Homo sapiens: one gene and its partner. The protein of the gene in region 2 purifies or fractionates together with the protein of the main gene of each other region. This does not show direct contact. Each region holds a gene or a part of one and is shown on either strand. Other genes may lie near its edges.

The links. The genes of interacting proteins can lie anywhere in the genome.
Region 1: the proteins of FIBCD1 (region 2) and GDPD5 purify together in Homo sapiens (co-immunoprecipitation; one large-scale study listed by IntAct). This does not show direct contact.

The regions. Positions count from the first base shown.
Region 1 is NC_000011.10:75,519,442-75,522,941, forward strand, and holds part of GDPD5 (glycerophosphodiester phosphodiesterase domain-containing protein 5), read right to left. Parts: intron 2,417-3,500; exon of another isoform or gene 1-2,416. UniProt on the Homo sapiens protein: Glycerophosphodiester phosphodiesterase that promotes neurite formation and drives spinal motor neuron differentiation.
Region 2 is NC_000009.12:130,905,094-130,908,247, forward strand, and holds part of FIBCD1 (fibrinogen C domain-containing protein 1), read right to left. Parts: intron 321-3,154; coding exon 141-320; intron 1-140. UniProt on the Homo sapiens protein: Acetyl group-binding receptor which shows a high-affinity and calcium-dependent binding to acetylated structures such as chitin, some N-acetylated carbohydrates, and amino acids, but not to their non-acetylated counterparts.

The sequences.
Region 1 (3,500 bases), on a different chromosome or scaffold from region 2:
CTGCCCTTTGCCTGGGATTCATTCCAAACGCCTTTCCTGAGCACCTGTTTTCTCTAAGATCCTCTGTGAGGTGCTGGAGATACAGATCATAACAGCTAACCTGCACTGAGTGCTCATTATGTGCTGGGCATTTTTTTGAGTGCTTTACACGTATAATTCATTTCACCCTCACAACTCTATGATGAAGATGCTGTAATTATCCCCATTTTACATATGGGGAAACTAAAGCCCAAAGAGGTTAAATCACTTGCCCAAGTCATTTAGCCCTACCCTGTGCCACCAGCCACAGATACTGATGGGACCGGCCCCTGCCTCAGGAGCCTGCTTCTCACAATTTGGAAGTTTTGCATCTGTGTGTTTCCTTGTCTAATGCTGTTTCCCCCACAGACCAGAATCTCCAACCATGTTACATTTCGGTTGGATGTGTGTGTGAGCAGCACCAAATAAATGCTGCTTCCCTTTAAGGAAGAACTCACACTCTCTGCCCAGCATCTGCTAGCTGGACGCCAGACGGCTTCTCCCACCTGGGTCATTTCTTCTGCGTAGGCCTGAGAAGAAAACCCAAGTCCCCAGATATCCCAGTCCTGCTCCCTCCCCTGAACCTAGCTCGGGACCCTTCCAGGCCAACAGCACCTGCTTACACACCACTGTTCACAGGGAAGGTGGTGGGAACTGTGAATCTGCAAACCCCAGCTAAGTCCCCCTAAGGGAAGGCCTCCCTGCCATCTGGCACGCCCTCCCTCCAGCCATCACTCACTGGACTCTTCCATCAGCTTCTTACTGAGTTGCTCGTTCACGAAGCCATCGAGGGGATGGGCAAGAAGACTCATGCTGATGGAGTACCCACCTGTGTGCCAGGCCTGGACAGGCACCCCACTTCCTTCATCTCATTTAATAACAGTTATTATCAGCCCCAATGTACAGGGAAAAAACAGAGGTGCAAAAGTTGAGCAAGTTGTCCATGGGGCAGCTTGCACTGCCTCCCCTGGCCCGGAGGGTGTGGCTCTGTGCCAGGCACACTGCTAGGCACTCAGAGGGAGGGGAGGATTCGGTGGGGGCACATAGAATCTAGTTTTGACAAGCCAGCAAGGGAAGCAGACCAAGCAGAACCCCAATCCACAGACCACAGTCAGTGTGCAGAGGGCCATGAATCAGCAGCAGAGGAGGCTTGGATCCCACCTGCATGGGAGGAGTACTGGAAGCTTATAGCAGGCAGCATCTTTGGACCTGGTTGAACTCCTTACTGCTCTTTCCCATGGTCACAGCAGGAGAAAGGGTAAGCCTTGGCCTACAAAGCTCTGGTGCCCAGTGTGTGTTTGCCACCACCCCAAAGGGGGCAAAGGGAGGAGAAGCTGGCTGCCCTGCCAGTGACCCCGCTGTGGCCCGGCCAGCCTGCCTCCAGTCCCGCCAACTTGGCCTGGCCTGGCCCAGCCAGTTCCCAATCACAGGGTCTCCTCTGCCAGCTAATGACCATGCTGCCTGCAGCTCAGGCCACCACCCTCCTTTGGGCGAGGCAGCTACCCACACAGCCTGCTGGCCCAGACAGTGGCCAGGCCAAAAATCACAGCTGCCCGTCATACCACATCCTCTGGCCCTGGTGCTGTGGTCTCCTCCTCCTCCCTCCAGGGTCACGAAAGACGATGTAGAAAGCTGGAGCTACAGGGGAGCTCAGAACCCACCCTGCTCCCCATAGACATGGACACACGGGACCCCAGAGAGGGGCCGACTCACCCCAGGTCACACAGACAACCAGCCAGCCTGTGCACGGCCTAGGGCCCAGGTCCTTCCTGGGCCCCATGCTCAGTCCAACACTGCCCTTCCTTAGCCTTGAGAAAAAACCTTGTCCAGGCTTTTTACACACAAAGTATGCTTTCAAGGTACTTGGGTGGAGGTGAGGAGACAGGACATCTTCTAAGCACAGATTTACAATTCAAACAGATGCAGCTTGGCTCCCTGCTCCCTACCTTTGAGCTGTGTGACCTCGGGCAAGATCAGGTACCTCTCTGAGCCCCAGTTTCTAGGGGATAACAGTAGCTACCTCAGGGAGTTTGTGTGAACAAGAGTGTCTATAAAACATTTAGCACATTGTCTGGCTCATAGTAAGTACTCAAGATATCAGCTGTTGTTGATATCATCACTGTAGTATTGTGTGGATACATTTTACAAACTGCAAAATGTTATGGATAGTAGGTATTATTTTTTACTATTACTGCTGAATGTTAAAGATTCAGAGGGGGCATGACCAGAGGGTTGGGTAATCCAGGAATGTTTCTGAGGGAATTTATGACCTCAGTCAGGTCTTGACAGGTGGGGAGGTAAGTGGAGCAGAGGCAGGGATGGCGGTTCTGATGGGAGGAACCACAAACAAAGGGGCTGTGATGGGGCCACATGTGGTGTGTTTAGGAGACAGTGCAGAGCAATGAGCCAGAAGGCCGGGCAGAGGCTAAGGTGACCAAGGACCTGAATGCCATAACTAGGGCCTGGTCTTCATCTTACAGGCCGTAAGGAGCCACAGAGGCTTCTAAATGGGGGCTCCATTAAGCTTTCTGAAATGTGAGTTCTGTCTAACATTCAAGGCCCTCTCCTATATGGGCATTCACCCCTCACTAACCCCACCAAGCCATCCTCCTCGCCCCAAGTTCTCCCTACCTCTCGGCTTACCACGCTATCCCACCTGCCCCGCCACTAGCCCACTAGCTCACACTCATGATGAGGCACCCCCTTGTTGAGTGCCTAAAGTGCCGTGTGTTTCACACATGGGACCTCAAGATGATCCTTAACAGCCTTGAGAAGTGGACATCACAACCGTCATTTCACAAAGGGGGAAATGGAGGCCTGATGGGATCATGTGTCTTTCCCATGCTCTCAGTGAGGCGGTGGCACAGCCAGGATTCCTTCTTGGAGGGATGTCAGGACCCCCCGTCTTTGCAGCAAGTTTCCTCTAGCTCCTGCCCAGACAGCCACCTCCCTGACAAAGCCTTCCTGGTTACTCCAGTCCTCAAGGGCCTCCCCTCCACCCCTTTCTGCCCTGTACCCTCCCCCTTACTCCTCCCCGTCACCACCTCTCTGGAATCAGAGGCCCACTTGATCCTAGCTCAGCTAGCTTGGTTCCCAGTGTTGCCTGTGGGACCATCTGGCCCCCAACAGAAGAGACAGGACATCATCAACCCCAGCTCTCTCCTGTTGGGGGCCAGATGACACTTTCTCCCTGTCCTATCCTGCCTGCCCCCCCATATCCAAGACTGCTAACAGCACAGACAGGAGCCCCCACCTCCTCTGGTAGGGTTCAGAAGCTCACTGAACATAGAGCTATTTCCCTGAGCCTGCCCCCAGCTGAGGGGAGTATTAATTATTCACTGCACCTTGGTGCCTAGGGAGGTCAGACAATGGGCCCGAGGGAATGGACACCAGCTCCAGGCACCACAGCCCTGCCAGCAGGAAGCCAAGGGAGGGGGTAAGAATCCAGAGCCCCTTGCCGGTGTCCCCAAGCAGACTGATTC
Region 2 (3,154 bases):
TGTTATTTTTCAAAAACCTGATTACTTTCAAAGGGGGAAAAATACATTAGCCTTGATCATTTTGGAGGGCAGGACCTCCTCCGTCCTCCATCCTCCCAGGCCGCCCCCCTTCCCCATCCCTGCCACAGCTGGAGCCTCACCTGCAGTGCCGGAATAGTCAGCCACGGTGAGCGGGTACCCGTCTTCCTCAGGGTCCACGGAGAACAAGCCCACGCCGAAGCTCCCGTAGCGGGCATAGGCCGTGCCATTCTCAAAGTCCTCCAGGTCCACGTGCAGCTCGTAGGCAGCCTGTGTGGTCAGGGCGTGGATCCTCTTGAGCCCTGAAGTTGGGGGGAAAATGGTGGGAGAAGCTGAGGGGCGTAGGAAGCGACTCCCCAGGGAGAAATGATAAATGACAGCTGAGCTCATGCAGTTGGGGACAGAAAGGGACAACCACCAAGTGCGTGCAATCAGCCCTGGGCTACTTCCTTCTTCCTGCAGGCCTGTGTTGGGCAAGCCACTGAGGACCGACAGTTTTCATGTTTGGTTTTCTCTGTTCCCTTTAAGTGGAGCTGTGATGCTTTTCAAACGTTGGGGCTCTGAGCTGGTGGGAAGACTGCAGGAGGCGGGAGGAGGTGGGGGTGACAGCACCCTTACCCAGACTCCAGCCAGAGCCAGACAGACAGGATCTGTGTTCGCATTTTCCTATACCTGGCCTCTGGGCCTTTGCACATGCTGTTCCCTCTGCCAGGATGCTTGTCCCTACTCCTCCTCACTTGGTTACCTTCTATTCATTTCTGGAAGGCTGCCTGACCTCCTGTCGGCGTTGAGGACCTCCTCTGCCAACACATGTGCCCCTGTGGGTATTTATCTTTCAGGGTCCCGGCTGCCTATCTTGTCAGTTTCCCCACCAGTGCGGAATTCCCGTGACAGTGGCATGTCCGACCTAGCCACTGCTGACCCCAGTGCCTGGGGTGGGGCCTGGCACAATGGTGCTTACCCAGCGCTGGCTTAGTGGATGGGAGGGAGTTGGCGGCACCCTCACCCCTCTAGGCCGGCTCTGTGCCCCCATCCTACTCTCTCCCTCCTGCTGTCCCCGCCCCACCTCAACTCTGCCCTGCCCATCCCCGGGGTCTCATGCCAGGCCTCCCCTACCATACACATACGTGCTCAGACTCCCAAGATGCTTCACTGCTGGTGTGGTTACTCTTGATTAAGAGGGCATTTAATGAAATGTTTCACAAGTTAGTAGCAGCGAGTGGTATTCCATCCGCTTCTCCCTCCTGCCTGCCTCTCCCCGGCTCCGCACCTCCCGGGGTCAGTGTGTGCTGGCTGGAGGCTGTGCGGATCCTCCCCCATCCCGCCCGGACAAGAAGCCTTTGGTCCCAGTCACCAGGTCCAGGGACCAGGAGCAGCTACTGTGGGAGGAGTCACAGCAAAGCTGACCGCACGACCCACGTTCCTCCCCAAGGACCTGCCAGGGCATGGGCTTTGACAGCCTAGGGTCTCACCCAGGGTCCCCACCTCCCTGACTCTCCTGCTGCTGAGTCTCAGGGCAGCCGCTCTCCCTCTCTGGGCCCCAGCTCGGCTGGCGCAGGGCTGATGTGAGGGGCCAGGAGAGTGTCATACACAAAAGGGCAGGTGGGAGGTAATCATGACAACAGCCGCCACCTGGACGGCACTCGCAAGGGCCCAGCACCGTTCTCAGCCCTTCGTGCAGATGAGTGAATCCAGTGGAATTAGAGTGAGTCTAATTTAATTACAGAATCCCTGGGCGGCTCTTCTGGCAGGGCTGGCCCGCTGCACACATTATCCAGGTGCTGACTGCTGCTTCCCAAGGCCCCGGGGAAGGAGTGCCTATTACTACCTATTTTATAGGGGAGGAAAATGAGGCCCAGGGAGGTTAAGGAGCTGGCCCAGGTCACGCGGCTGCTGAGTGGCATTGCTGGGATTTGAACCCAGGCAGAAGGGCCCCAAATCCCTGCTGCTATTCAGACCTTACCCAGAACAAATCAGATGATGCAGGAATAGGGAGAGAGGGAGACCGGCCCCCCGGGGATGCTGGAAGATTCCTTTTCCCACCACTAATTGGCCATTGGCACCCAAAGGCCACCATTAGCCACTCCTCTGGGTTGAGTGACAATTCATGAGCGGTGTCCCGGGGGCTGCTAGGCAGGACGCCCGAGGGAGGGGTGGGTGGGGACCTGGGGCCTGGGTCCTCTCCGTCCTTCCTCCAGTCCACGCCACCTCCTCCCTCCCTCGCCTCCCTGCCCTTGCTCTTTGGCTTTCTCCAGCTCTCCCAGCTTTTCCCTGGCCTTCCAGGACCGCTCCCAGCCACGTTAGCTGTTCTTCCCAGATTCCCTGGGCCCCTGATCCAACTCCTTCACCAGCTCCCGGCTCAAATCGCCAAGAGCAAGAAACAGGGCTGATGGCTTGAAACAGACAGGAAACCACTAAGACCCTAAACTTCACATGTCCACCCCAGTGGACTTCCAGCTGGACTAAAGCTGTCAACCTAAAACAACACTAGAAAAACAGAAGAAAAGCCTGGGCGCGGTGGCTTACGCCTGTAATTCCAGCACTTTGGGAGGCCGAGACGGGCAGATCACGAGGTCAGGAGTTCGAGACCAGCCTAGCCAATATGGTGAAACCCCTGTCTGTACTGAAAATACAAAAATTAGCCGGGCGTGGTGGCGGGCGCCTGTAATCCCAGCTACTTGGGAGGCTGAGGCAGGAGAATCGCTTGAACCCGGGAGGTGGAGGTTGCAGTGAGCTGATATCATGCCACTGTACTCCAGCCTGAACTACAGAGTGAGACTCTGTCTCAAAAAAAAAAAAAAAAAGAAAGAAAAGAAAAACAGAAGAAAAAATAGAGGAGACTTAAAAAAAAAATAAAACTAGGAAGGGAAGGAAAGGAAAGCAGGGGCTAAAACCCAGAAAAGATACAAAGAAAAGGGTGGCAGAACTGAGTGCATAAACATCTTAAATTTCTAGGAAATAAATAATAACATGACCCCACAAAAGAAAAAGAAAAAGCTGAAAGACAAATGGCCAGAAGTTAATACCTATCATGTGTTGGACAAATGATCGGTAACCTTAATATATAGAGAGCTTCCATGACTCGATAGGAAAAGACAAAGCACTCATTGAGAGGGGATGGGGAGGGTGGTGCGGC